4 linked regions of the Homo sapiens genome follow. The protein of the gene in region 1 purifies or fractionates together with the protein of each later gene. This does not show direct contact. Each region holds a gene or a part of one and is shown on either strand. Other genes may lie near its edges.

Evidence for each region.
Region 2: the proteins of ASNS (region 1) and GDA fractionate together in Homo sapiens (co-fractionation; one large-scale study listed by BioGRID). This does not show direct contact.
Region 3: the proteins of ASNS (region 1) and SCPEP1 fractionate together in Homo sapiens (co-fractionation; one large-scale study listed by BioGRID). This does not show direct contact.
Region 4: the proteins of ASNS (region 1) and CBS fractionate together in Homo sapiens (co-fractionation; one large-scale study listed by BioGRID). This does not show direct contact.

Annotation. Positions count from the first base shown.
Region 1 is NC_000007.14:97,851,177-97,855,408, forward strand, and holds the end of ASNS (asparagine synthetase [glutamine-hydrolyzing]), read right to left. Parts: coding exon 4,177-4,232; intron 3,579-4,176; exon of another isoform or gene 3,505-3,578; coding exon 3,404-3,504; intron 2,211-3,403; coding exon 2,129-2,210; intron 2,040-2,128; coding exon 1,884-2,039; intron 1,293-1,883; coding exon 1,083-1,292; 3' UTR 501-1,082; downstream 1-500.
Region 2 is NC_000009.12:72,155,940-72,159,439, forward strand, and holds part of GDA (guanine deaminase), read left to right. Parts: intron 1-2,880; exon of another isoform or gene 2,881-3,074; intron 3,075-3,500. UniProt on the Homo sapiens protein: Catalyzes the hydrolytic deamination of guanine, producing xanthine and ammonia.
Region 3 is NC_000017.11:56,991,631-56,995,130, forward strand, and holds part of SCPEP1 (retinoid-inducible serine carboxypeptidase precursor), read left to right. Parts: intron 1-3,350; coding exon 3,351-3,388; intron 3,389-3,500. UniProt on the Homo sapiens protein: May be involved in vascular wall and kidney homeostasis.
Region 4 is NC_000021.9:43,055,764-43,058,835, forward strand, and holds part of CBS (cystathionine beta-synthase), read right to left. Parts: coding exon 3,071-3,072; intron 2,645-3,070; exon of another isoform or gene 2,528-2,644; intron 2,491-2,527; coding exon 2,382-2,490; intron 1,125-2,381; coding exon 1,040-1,124; intron 337-1,039; coding exon of another isoform or gene 295-336; intron 1-294. UniProt on the Homo sapiens protein: Hydro-lyase catalyzing the first step of the transsulfuration pathway, where the hydroxyl group of L-serine is displaced by L-homocysteine in a beta-replacement reaction to form L-cystathionine, the precursor of L-cysteine.

The sequences.
Region 1 (4,232 bases):
TATACAAAAATTAATTCAAGATGGATTAAAGACTTAAATGTTAGACCTAAAACCATAAAAACCCTAGAAGAAAACCTAGGCATTACCATTCAGGACATAGGCATGGGCAAGGACTTCATGTCTAAAACACCAAAAGCAATGGCAACAAAAGCCAAAATTGACAAATGGGATCTAATTAAACTCAAGAGCTTCTGCACAGCAAAAGAAACTACCATCAGAGTGAACAGGCAACCTACAGAATGGGAGAGAATTTTTGCAATCTACTCATCTGACAAAGGTTTAGACTTTCATCAGAAATGCTTAGTTAGCTTAGTTGTTCCTCTAGAACAGCAATCAACTAACTATGGCCCACAGGCCGTATCTGGCCCACCATCTGCTTTCATAAGTAACTTTTAATAGAACATGGCCACGCTCGTTTGTTTACATATTGCCTATGTAACTGCTTTTGCACTATAATGGCAGAGCTGAACAGTTCCAAAAGAGGTCCACAAAGCCTAAAATATTTACTATCTGGCTCTTTATTAAAAACAAATTAAAAATTCAAAAAAAGCCTGACCCCTGCTCTAGGACAAGTCTCCAGAAGTGGCTTTGGCTCAACATAAAAGAGAAAAAAATGAACTACTATCTTGCAAAATAGAGCTGTGATGAACTCCTATAGAAGATTCAAGTCTGAGTCTGCCTAGGCAGCTGTTAGGAATGTAGGCAGAACAAAAATAGTGTAGTCCTTTGATGACGTCCCTAAGATGAGGCAAGGACTGGAAGGAAGCCACACGGGCACAAGATGCAAATGTCATCTAAAGCAGCTCTGCCAGGAGAGGGCTGTGAGTTCTTGCAGACATCTGATCATTTTCCCTTTTCCTAGCTTACCCTCCACTTTACTGTGATACAGCAAAACAGTTCTAGTTACCTCTTATGAAGAGACTGCATGAACATAAATGACTACAGCAATGGTTTAGATTTAGGACTTTTATTTTTTTCACACCCAAGTTAGCCTGAGTTGACTCTCATTGTTCCCCTATCTACCCACAGTCCCCATCCAACACGAAGAAATATTTGCTTTCACATTACAGCATAAAGACCACCTAAGCTTTGACAGCTGACTTGTAGTGGGTCAGCGTGCGGGCAGAAGGGTCAGTGGCATTGATCCACTTGGGCATCCAGTAATGGCTCAGCCAGTCAGCCCGGCCTGGGTAATGGCGTTCAAAGACTTGACGGTAGTAATATCCTTCTTTGGTTTTAGGAGTATTGAAGGGAAATTTCTGGGCTGCATTTGCCATCATTGCATCATCAACCTGTAAGAATAAGCATATAAGAGCAAAATGGCTTAAAATGGCAGGAAATACTTGTGTTTAGTCTCATTTCACGAAACAGAAAATGTTAAGACGTGACTGTAACTTGTATGAGACCCTTTGAATCACCCATCACTTAGAAAATGCTAAAGTATTCATAATATGGATAGCTGCAGTGCCTTTTAAAGAACACTCATATGCATATTTTTAATACTTGGTGGCTCTGTTTTAGTCATTTGTGCCTAACAAGATCTGGCACCCAGCAGGTGCCCAAAAATCTGATAAATGAAAATCAGTGATGATTAGTAGTAAGTCTCCTCTCTCTCTCGATTCTAGATGCTACTTTATAATCCTTCATGCTACTTAATTCTTACGTAATTCTTACAAAAGAGATAATTGTTTACAGAGACTCTGAATCTCTCTGATAGGGACATCCTATCAGAGAGATATCTGATGTATGTATCATTCAAACTAAATACATGTATCATTCAAACTAAATACATGTATCATTCAAACTAAATACAAAATGAACAGCAATGACAGCTCTGCATCCAAACTGTCTTATTCCTGAAAATGTTTTTAAAGACATTATACCTGATGTTCAACGTATTCCTGTAAAATCTTAAACCAGGAATTCTTAACTGAAGTTATTCCATCACTGAAGGCTTCTTTTGGTCGCCAGAGAATCTCTTTGGGTATCAGATTGGAATCCTCAAACGTCTCTCTCAGGAGATGTTTTTCTATCCCATTCTGACGTGACAAAAAAAGGAGCATCAGGTAAAAATTACAAATATAATCTGATGGCAATGGACAGTTTTACCTTGAGTTGATTTACCTACCTTTGGAATTCTCATTTCTGGTGGCAGAGACAAGTAATAGGAAGAAAATCGATGATCTAGAAATGGGACTCTCAGTTCAAGACTTAAAGGAGAAAAGAAGAAAATCTAAATTAAAATGGGTATTTAGTGCCTGCCAGGTTAGGTTCTGATTCAGTTTCCCATCAATTCAACCAGATCTTAAGAAATGTTAAGGTCATACAGTCACATACAAGCCTCCTAATGACTGCCCTACACTAATGAATAGATACAAAAAATAAATCTTCATTTAAAATAATACATATATCATGTCATCTAGGGAGTAAAACTAACTGAGACTATTACTTTTACTTTCCCTTCTAGGAATAGTTAAATGCATATTTCAAAAAGCAGAAAAAGTTACAAAACATGAGTGACCCAATCATTAAGAAAATACCTTGCCTAGACCTAACTCAGTGTTTACTAGGTGAGACCATCTCTTCTAACAATTGTGATGACGATACAGTATTTTTTTGCCACTGATTAAAAATTCACATACAATATGCGATATAAACCAGTGTCCCACTATATTTCATCAAATTCCAAATCACCGGTTTCCTGAAGCCTAGTGACTCTAGTTAGGACAAGCAGAGAGGATAATGACCAGATTCAGTTCATTCCTCAAACCCATATTTAATTATATCCTTATCTAGGTGTGATTCAGCAGAGGCAACTAAGACATTTAATGTCAGTTGTTTATCCTGTACAGTAAAAGTCTTCAGTTCTTCAACATAACTTTAGACAACTAGAAATGATAACCAAAGAAACCTGGTTCTTTATAATGTAATCAAACCCCTTGTATCTTCACTACTCTATTCCCTCAGGGTCACTACAGCACCACATGGGCATGGTGGGCACTCACTACTTGTCACATGATGTTTACGATCTTTACTTCTCTTTAAAACACTTAACGGTAGCTGCTGTAGCAGCCTTGCCTCTTCCATCTTGGTTGTTCAGATGTGAGCAGAATGTTGTTACCCTTTAAAGGTGAAAACTCCACCTCAAACAACCTATGGAAGAAGACTTCTCTCCATATACCACAACACCACTTTGAAATGTGGCCTAATCCTTTTGGGACAAAGTTAAGAAACAGCTTCATTTTCTCTATAAAAGTCACACTTTGTAACATATAGCCAACTATATGTAACATATAGCCAATCAGCTATTGATTTTTATTTTCTCAGGGTATTGAGCTTTTTGTTTTGTTTTGTTTTTGGTGTTTTTTTGTTTTTGTTTTACAATAGCCTCTAAAAATATTACCCATGGGCAGCAGTAGTTCGATCTGCGCGGAGAACATCAAACAAATAGAGTTCCCTCAGAAGCCTCTCACTCTCCTCCTCGGCTTTTTCAGGAGAAGGAGCCTATTTCACAAACAAAAACACCAAGAGTTTTGCTTTTGGCACACAAAGCAGTTTTTCTTTCTCCCTCTCCAATCCTAAAGGTGGATAAGACAAAAAGTTAAACAAATTTAGGGAAGGGAGTAAATAACTGAACAGAGGTAAGCAATGCTTCACAAAACATGCCTTCCTTCCTACCAAACTGCTAATATTAGAATAAAATGAACACAATGGGCAACAGTCATAATTCCACAGGATGCTAAGAAATGGCAGAAAGGGGATTCTCAAGCTTAAGTAGTTTTATTTATTTATTTTTAACTTTTTTTTTTTTTTTTTTAAGAGACGGGGTCTTACTCTGTCAACCAGGCAGGAGTGCAGTGGTGCAATCACAGCTCACTGCAGCCTCAATCTCCTGGGTTCAGGTGATCCTCCCACCTCAGCCTCCTCAGCAGCTGGGGGTATGAGCATGAGCCCTCATACCCAGCTGTAACTAGTTTTAAAGAATAAAAATTATCTGACACATTAAAATTTCTTTCTTCCCCAAGAGATAGAAAGCAAACACTATCAGATTCCCTTTTGTAACCTCACAAGATACTCAAAAATATCACTGTCATACTGAAAGATGATAGAAAATAGTCAAACAATTCATACTTTTCTTAATATAGCATGAATATCCCTCCACTTCAGAGTGGTTACCTTGTGAAAATATATGTAACCCTGCGTAAGTTCATCTGATCCTTCTCCAGAGAAGA
Region 2 (3,500 bases), on another chromosome or scaffold:
ATAAAATGGATTAGTAAGTGTAAAATATATAGAATAATGCCTGGCATGTAGTACATGTCCATTAGACTTCAGCGGTTATTGTCAGTAATGCAGATGGAGAGGTGGATAGAATCAGTAGCTATTTAGATCAAGTTGACTGGATTTGATGATAGCTTACATATGTAAGGTTGGAAGGTAAGTGCATCAAGAGTGATCGCAAAATGTATGTAAATGTGTGTAAATAGTACAGTGGGGCACAAGTTGACCAGTGATAGGAAAAGCTTCTTGAAGGAAGTAGTAGCTGAATTGGACCTTTTAGGACTGGAACATGCAAAAGAGGATTATATAGCCCTGGTGAAAAGAGTGACCCAATGTTCTTCAGTTCTGAAGACTGCTGGGAGGAGGAAGAGTTCTTTCTCACCTGAGGCTACTTTACCAGAAGTTCTCTCAGTCTAAATCACAAATCCTAGTGATTGTGTATCATCCTTTCCTCCACTTCCTGCCAAGCTCAGCAACTCAAAATATGCTGTTGGTCCTGAGAAAGGAAACTGGGCTAATCCCTTCCTTCTGAGGCTGCTGAATAGGAGCTTGGCTTTCATCAGAAAGATGCTTTCACTCCCAATTATTACAAGATCATCTTGCAAATTCCCATTTTCTAGAAGGCTGATTGCTTGTTCAGAATGCTCATGGCAAACACTGTTGGTTACCCACTCAGCAGTCATGACCTCTTTTTCCTTATTAACACCTGAATTTGATCAGTCCATGGTAGACTCAGCCTGTGGATACATCATGGTGTAAGCCAGTCATGGTAATCCTATCTCCATTTATCAGATACTTATTCTTCCAGCTTCCTGGTAGCTGAGGGTGACTAGTGATAATATTCTGACATACAGGAAGTTTGCTCAGAAGCTTCTAGGATGTGGGAAGAGAAGCCCTGCCTTTTTTGGATACTCTCATATGAAGAAAAGATACTTGGAACTGCTGCTGCCACCATGTGAGACTGTGAGGAAAAGGTTAAGGGGATTTCAGAGACACCATCCCATTTTCTAACATCACTGAGCAGTTGAACTACCCCTACCTGGAACTGTCTACTATCAGACTTCTAGACTTCCTTTTTTTTTTTTTTTTTTTTTTTTTTGAGATGGAGTTTCACTCTTGTTGCCTAGGCTGGGGTGCAGTGGCGCGATCTTAGCTCACTGCAACATCCGCCTCCTGGGTTCAAGCGATTCTCCTGCCTCAGCCTCCCGAGGAGGTGGGATTACGGGCACTCACCACCATGGCCAGCTAATTTTTTGTATTTTTAGTAGAGATGGGGTTTCGCCATGTTGGGCAGGCTGGTCTTGAACTCCTGACCTCAGGTGATCCACCCACCTTGGCCTCCCAAAGTGTTGGGATTACAGGCGTGAGCCACGGTAGCCAGCCCAGACTTCTTTTGTGAGATATGAAATGTCTTTATTGTCTAAATCTCTGTTAGTTGGGTACTGTTCATTGCAGCCCAATGCACCCTCATTACTACACTGCTTTTCAATGAACAATATTTTACACTTTACAAGAATAACTACCTTCTCCTTCTTCTCCTTACTGGCCTTTCCAGGCACCCATATCAATAGTCAAGCCCAGCCAATTTTCCTCTGGGATTTCTGTGTGCATATTCACTTCCATTGCCCCCATCTACCCTTTAGTGTCTCTGAGCTAAAATATAACAGGAGACCCTTAACTGTTTTCTCTCATTCTAGTATTTCCCCCACATTACTGAAAACTCTTTTCTTGGACCATGGGTAGTATCATGTATCTACTCTTCTATAACCATCTATGGCTCACTATTGCCTCTAAGTTTCAAATGTCCTGGAAGATGTTCTAGGCATGACATTATTTGGCCCCAACCTGTTCTCTAATTCTTTCTGTTGCTTCATTTATCTGTCTGGCAAGTGGGAATAGGATTACCATGACTGATTTACACCATATTGTATCCATGAGCCAAGGGATGTCTATCCATGCAAATTTCTCCCTGTTTTCCAGCACATCATGTCCTTTTATGCCTCCACATTGTTGGCACCAATTTCTTTGCCTGGAATAGTCCTCCTTTTTATATCCCCATTTCCATTTTACTTCTATCAAAATGAAATCTTGCTCTTCCTTTAAGGCCCAGCTCTGATCTTCTCTTTTTCACAAAGGCTTTCACAAAGGCTTTATTCCCAAGTTGAAATAAATTGCCCCTTCCTCTGTTCTTCCATAAAATTTTTCATATATTTCAAATCAGTATTTTACAGGTAGTTAAGAACATGGTTTCTAGAGTCAGATTATGTGAATTCAAATCAAAACTCTGCTACTTACTAGGACAAATTTTCTGACATAGCTGAACCTCAGCATCCTCATTTAAAAATGTGGATTAAGGCTGGGTACAGTGGCCCGCACCTGTAATCCTAGCACTTTGGGAGGCCGAGGTGGGCTCATCACGAGGTCAGGAGATCGAGACCATCCTGGCTAACATGGTGAAACTCCATCTCTACTAAAAATACAAAAAATTAGCTGGGTGTGGTGGCAGGCGCCTATAGTCCCAGCTACTCGGGAGGCTGAGGCAGGAGAATCCCTTGAACCCGGGAGGCAGAGCTTGCAGTGAGCTGAGATCATGCCACTGCACTCCAGCCTGGGCAACAAGAGCGAAACTCCGTCTCCAAAAAAAAAAAAAATGTGGATTAATAGCACCTTGATAGAGTTGTGAGGCAAGTGAGATAGTGTGTTGTTATTATTTTTCTTTCTCTGAAGTAGTTATTCCAATTTGCCTTTGATTATACTTAGCTTTATAGAATGTTCTCACTCACTGAAATGATTTAAAGTTTTTGGAAAAAGAGAGATGAACTGGAGAAAAGGTAACACTTACTAAGTCATACTGTATTTCAGACAGTCTGCCAAATCCCTTACAAATCAACAACCTTGAGACAAGGTAAGGACACCATCATCATCATCATCATCATCATCATCATCATCTCTACTTTACAAATGAGGAAACGGAGGCTCGGAGAGTTACTTGGCTGCAGTCACAGCAAATAAGTGGCAAAGGCAAGACTCAGAGCCATGCCTGTCTGATGTCCAAGGTCCGTGCTCTCCAGGAGTCTCTGCTGTCTTCTGTCATGGAGAGGGCCAAAACTCTATTGTCCTAAGGCCCCTTCAACATTTCATGTTGTTTTAGCACAAAGTAGGTGGTCAGTAAAGTGTGTTGAATGTGATGTGTAATACAAAAACGAGGCAGGCAGATCACAAGCTCAGGAGTTCAAGACCAGCCTGGCCAACATGGTGAAACCCCGTCTCTACTAAAAATACAAAAATTAGCCAGGCATGATGGCAGGTGCCTGTAATCCCAGCTACTCAGGAGGCTGAGGGGGAAGAACTGCTTGAAACCAGGAGGTGGAGGTTGCAGTGAGCCGAAATTGTGCCACTGCACTCCAGCCTGGGTGACAGAGTGAGACTCCGTCTCAAAAAAAGAAAAAGAGAAAAAAAAATGAGTGATAGAACAAACCTTT
Region 3 (3,500 bases), on another chromosome or scaffold:
AACTCAGAAGTGTGCAGTTTTGTAATTGAGCATCCGTGTTGCGAGCATAAATAAGAGTTGTTTATGTTGCAGACACCCAGGGTGTGGCCCCAGACATCTGAAACAATCATCCTGGTGGCGTTCACTCTAACACAGGGTTTCTCAGCACTGTTGACATTGTGGGTCATATAGTTCTTTTTGTGGGAGGCTGTCCTGTGCATTGTAGGATATTATCAGCAGCATCCTTGGCCTCTACTCAGGAGATGCTAGTAGCACCGCTCCAGTGTGACAACCAGAAATGTCTCCCTGGGGAACAAAACCATCCCTGATTGAGAACCATTGTTCTAACCTAACAAAACGTGATTTCCCCAGGCAAAACCAAACTATCGAGTTAGAAATCAGAAGAGAGGCTGCCTAGGGGCAAAGGAGGGAAATAAGCAGGAAAGGTACATGAGGGAAATATATCTTGATTGCAGGGGGTGGTTACACGGGCATATGCATTCATCAAAACTCTTCTGAAGGTACACTTGTGATTTGTGATTATGGCTCAGTTTTTTAAAAATAATCATTTATAAAAGGTAATATTTACCCCTAAAAGATAGGGATTTGCTTGTTACAGAGCCATATTCCCAATAACCATTACGACTTGGAATAGTATTTCTTGCCCTCATGTTTGCCATCTGCAGGGTAGGACTGAAGTAGCATAAAACTGAGTCAGCATGAAGAGGAGGGCTGCTATTCGTTTATCTGTCTTTCCTTCCTGGATGGATCTCGTAGGACATCATAAAACTGCAGAAGCTTAGAGAAGCATGAGAGTTTCTTGTCAGATACTGCTCTTTTGTTCATGTTGATGGCAAGACAAAGTCTCCATCAGGTCTTGCAACCCAGAGGTGTGCTGTTTCATAACTGAGCATCCTCACTGGGAACACAGATAAGAGTTGTTTATGACTCAAAATTATGATGCTGGCCCTCTCACTTCCTCATGGGGTCTCCTCAGTTTCACAGTAGCACTAAGTACTTTACATGTGCTAACTTCATGTAATCCTTACAACAACTCCATGGGATGGATGCTATCATTATCCTAATTTTGTAAATGATGAAACTGAGACTTAGAGAGGTTAAGCAACTTTCTTAGAGTCACCTAGCTAAATGGTAGAACTGGGATTCAAATCCAGGCAGCAGGTACTGGAATCCAAGCAACCTAACCACCTTGCTACATTGTCTCTCCAAGATCAGTACGTTTCGCTTCCTGGCTTTGCAAGTGTTATTCATTGTGTTTGGAATCTACCTTTTTCTCCTTGCCGTGACCCACTTTACCTTATGAATCTGTTTGTCTGGATCGTAATCCATCCTTCCAGATCCACTTTAAGTATTGCCCCTCTATCCCAGAAACATTGGTTTTTGAGGGAGAAGTATTGTTAATTTCCATGAACAATTGTTAATTGCTTGCTAGGTAGTAGATACTGTTCTAGGTGCTAGGAAAAGATACACAGATAAGCTCCTGATCTTCAAGAAGGTCTTGATCTGCACTGTCACTAAGCCCATGTGACCATGTCAGTATGGTAACCACTTGCCACATGTGACTATATAAATTTAATTATAATTTTTAAATACAATTTCATTTTTTCAGGGGCACTCTCTACACCCAAGTGCTCCATAGACACATGTGGCTATTAGCTAGCATTTTGGACTGCACAGATACAGAACACTTCCATTACTGTAGAAAGTTCTATTGAACAATGCAGGCCTACTTCAAAGATTGGTAAACAAGGGCCCATGAGTCAAGTCTGCCCTGCCGCCTGCTCTGGTAAATAAGTTTTTGTTGTTTGTTTGTTTTTGTTTGTTTGTTTTGAGATGGAGTTTTGCTCTTGTTGCCCAGACTGGAGTGCAGTGGCACGATCTCGGCTCACTGCAACCTCCGCCTCCCAGGTTTAAGCAATTCTCCTGTCTCAGCCTCCTGAATAGCTGGGATTACAGGTGCCCACCACTACGCCTGGCTAATGTTTTTGGTATTTTTAGTAGAGATGGGGTTTCACCATGTTGGCCAGGCTGGTCTCCAACTCCTGACCTCAGGTGATCTGCCCACCTCGGCCTCCCAAAGTGCTGGGATTACAGGCGTGAGCCACCGCACCCAGCCGGTAAAAGTTAATTTACTGTCTATGGCTGTTTGGAGGCTGTAAGAACAGAGTGGAGTAGTTCAACCGAGATAGGCTGGCCTACCAGGCCAAAATTATTTACTATCTGTCCCTTTACAGAAAGTTTACCAGTCTCTGGCCCAGATCAAACAGGAAGTGGGATGCATTGGAGAACTGCAGCCAATCCTGTGTTTTAAGAAACTAAGAAACAAGTTTGAAGGTTAAGCCCGGGAGGTGATTAACAGCTAGGCCACGGAAGTCCTGGTGTGCTTGCATTTCTCAGAGAGTACTCTAAAAGAATACCAGTCCAGGCCAGGTGTAGTGGCTCACATCTGTAATCCTAGCACTTTGGGAGACCAAAGCGAGCAGATTGCTTGAGCCCAAAAGTTCGAGACCAGACTGGGCAACATGGACTTAGTTCCTGCAGAACTAAGACTACTTGAAACCTACTTTGAGACACTTTGCCTTAAGGAGCCATTGAATACTTTTAAGCTAAGGAGAGACATACTCAAATGTGCTTTATAAGTTGAGGTCCTTGATTCTTTGTTGGCGTGTCTTTCAATAGCACTTGTCTTACCTAGTGATACAGTATTTAATAGTTGTGAGCTTGTCTAAACCAAGGTCAACTACTATTCTCTTTGAGGACAGGCATTATGTTACTCACATTTATATCTTAAGCTTTTGCTGCCTCTAGACCCTTAGTAAATTCTCAATATGTTTGTGGGATGGGAATAAGCCAATTGGCAATATAGCCATTTGCACTGTTGCAAACTCATTAGTCATCTTCCTTATTTAGCTCCTTGGCAGAAGCTAATATCTCCAAACTGGAGGAGCAAATAAGATGTAGAGCAGAAATGTGAGGGTGGGGAAATATTTTAAGCTGTCAAAAGGCCTAGAGGTCCACAGATAAGAGCCTCCACCTGCATACCTACAGCCTGCCTGTGGGGATGCTGTCATCGGCAATGACTCACTTGCTGGACCAGTATCAGGCCAAATTAATGTGCCATTAGTCTTAAGAGTCAACAGAAAGGCCCCCACACCCTTATCCCACCTTCCAGACACTGAGACATCAGCCCGCCTCCTGCATGGGTACAGGTGAATTGAGGAGCCTTCCAATCCAAAGCCACCGGGTTTCTTGCTTCTGTCTCTTTCTTCTTTAGAGAGAAGACAGTAGGTTTGTCTTTGGAAAGACAGAGGTATGACATACTTGATTTGTACATATGTGATTTCCTTTAGATTCGGTGCTCTCCTGGGGACCTTACCTGTACAGCATGGTAAGTAGATACACATCTGCACCCTCTGGGCAAACAGCCCAGCAGATCTCTTCTGGCTGTGACCCCAGGAAAAGAGATGCTGGATGAGTTTGCCTATGTGGTTGACACTGCT
Region 4 (3,072 bases), on another chromosome or scaffold:
GGCCGTGCCGTCTCTGTTATGAGCACGCAGCCCTGACGTGCTTGAAAGCAGCCACAGACGGTGGTGACAAGCGTGGACATGCTCCAGGAAGACTTGATTTGGGGACCCTGACATTGGAATTTGCATCTTTTTTTTTTTCTGAGATGTTCAAACACAAGTAAATGTGAGATTAAGAGGGGGATCCCTCCTACCCAAGCTTGGGGGTGGGTCCAGGACCCTGGAAGGCCTCCATTTGCCATGGGGAGGCTGTGAATCTGAGCCTGAGAGCCATTCTGAGGGGTGGGTGATACCTACCTGCAGGCCCCCCCACCACGCCTGCCCAGGCCTGGTCCTGCGCTGCAGAGCCAAGGACGGGAGATGGGGTTAGACTTGGGGCCCTCACGGACCAGCCTCAGCCACCGAGCGCTCACCCCCTGCACACAGGCCTGGTGGGTGGGCAGGCTCCAGGCTCCAGGGCCCCTCCCAACTCTTCCTGTGGGCCCCAGGCCCAGGGCTGCCATCTATGACCCAAAACCTGCGAGCGACTCTCCTGGCCTGTGGGGATGTGGTGGGGACGCCCGGGGATGCGCTCAGGAGTTGCAAAACCTCATGAGCTTGCTGGGAGCGGGGCTCTGAGGACAGCCCATCAGTGGCTCCTGTGAGACCCACATGAGGCTTCCATTCAGAGCAGCCCTCCGAATGCCAGGGTCAGGACTTGAAACCCTTCTAGATGTTTCTGGGCTTGTCCCTGAGAATCCCCAAGACTGCTGGCCTCCCCGGAGGCAAGGGGCCTGGACTCCTGAGCCTCTGCATGCTGGACAAAGGGCCCTACCCAGTGTGGCCTGATGAGGGGTCCCTGCAGGAATCACAGGTACAGCCCACCAGCCCAGGGCATGTGGGAGGCCCAGGCATAAAGACTGGGTGTCACTGAAGGTCGGCACCACCCACTCCCCTAACACCCCGCAGGGGATGGGGGGCCCAGCTGCTGCCCATGGCAGAGGCCAGGCTTGGTGGCCTGACCCCAGTGAGAACCCCACGCACAGAGCAGGGCCCCACTCACACTGGATCTGCTCGTGCACCACCAGGGCGAAGTGGTCCATCTCCAGGATGTGCGAGAGCCTGCCCAGCGTGTCCGTGAGGCGGATCTGCAAGGGAAGCGTGGTCAGTGGCAGGGGGAACATGGCCCCACGAGTTTTCTGTGGAGTGAGAGGGGATGCGATGGTGGGTCCTGCAAAGCCCACCCGGGAGGCAGTGGCAGCCGAACGTGGGAAATACGTGGATTCGGGTGACGTCTCGGGTGTGTGTGTGAGATGGGAAAGAAGTCGAATTCACTCCTAGGTTTGGGCAGAACCCTCAGCCTTTCCAGTGTCAAGAGCCACACCTGCATGTCCCAGGGGATCCGTGTGGAAGGTCACACAAACTTTCCTGGGCCACCCTCAGGGCAGCAGAGGGTGGGTGTCTCAGGACAACCACGGAGTCTGACCAGCCCGGCAAGGAGCCACCGTGGGCTTCTCCCAGAATGTTCTAGCTCTTGTTGGATAACCAAGTGCATGCACAGGCAAATGAGGCTGGGCAGGAGAAAGACCCCGGCAGACGCCGCATGGTGCCCGGGACAGCCTCTGAGCGCGAATGACCTCCTTAAGTCCCCAAAACACGGCTGGTGTGGATGAGCCTGCACTGATGAGAGCCTGCTCTCCGGCTGCTGCACTTGTAAAGTGGGTGCTTCTCAGCTTCATGGTTTGAGGGGTGCAGCCAGCTTCGGCCTAAGTGGTGTTGAGGGTCGAGGACCCAGCACCCCCACACGGGAAGCGCGGTGTCCCGCCTTCGAGGCTGGAGTACTCTGGCACCCTCTGGGGTCCCGAAGTGCCTGAGTACCTGTTTGAGCCGCGTGTAGGTGACTGCGCACCTGTTTGAACTGCGTGTAGGTGACCGCGCACCTGTTTGAGCTGCCTGTAGCTGACCGGGCACCTGTTTGAGCTGCCTGTAGGTGACCGCGCACCTGTTTGAGCTGCCTGTAGGTGACTGGGCACCCGTTTGAGCTGCCTGTAGGTGACCGCGCACCCGTTTGAGCTGCCTGTAGGTGACCGGGCACCCGTTTGAGCTGCCTGTAGGTGACCGGGCACCCGTTTGAGCTGCCTGTAGGTGACTGGGCACCCGTTTGAGCTGCCTGTAGGTGACCGCGCACCCGCTTGAGCTGCCTGTAGCTGACCGCGCACCTGTTTGAGCTGCCTGTAGGTGACCGGGTACCTGTTTGAGCTGCCTGTAGGTGACCGCTCACCTGTTTGAGCTGCCTGTAGGTGACCGCGCACCTGTTTGAGCTGCGTGTAGGTGACCGGGCACCTGTTTGAGCTGCCTGTAGGTGACTGCGCATCTGTTTGAGCTGCCTGTAGGTGACTGGGTACCTGTTTGAACTGCTTGTAGATGACTTTGCCAACTTGGTCTGACGGCTGCACCTTCCCGGCAAGCAGGGACGAGAGCATGTTCCCAAGCGTCACCATTCCCAGGATTACCCTGTGGGACGGGGGCAGGCAGGGGTCAGCGCTCATACCTCACCCCTCCCAGGACGGTGGGGCACACGCTCAGCTGCCCCAGGGAGGAGCGCTCTCTGGCCACACATGGAAGTCCTCTGCCACGAGCCTACACGCGGCAGGAACCAGTCTGGGCCCTGGTGGGGAGAAAGAAACCAAGAGTCCTTGGACCCGTTCAGCCAGGGTCAAGGGTGACCAGCCGTCAGGTTTCCGCGACGTGGGGCTCTCAGTGGTCACTGGGCATGTGTGCCAAGGCTTTCTGCTGTCAGACATGTCCTCGGGGCATCTCTCCCCTGACCTCCAGGTGGGCCCAGGACAGCCTGCACACAAAGGGTGGGTGGGCTGAGGTCTGAGGGCCTGGAGTGAGCACGGCAGCCCTGCCCCAGGCTGCTCAGGGACCGGCAAGGGGCCTCCAATGCCCTGAACGTCTGTATGAGGCGGCCCAGGCGGGCCTATCAGCCCAGCTGCAGGGTCTGCATGGCTGCCCTGTCCAGTGACACTGACGGGGTGGAGCTGGGCAGACAGAACCCAGGACTGAGCTCTGAGCAGGGGCTGAGACTGACCC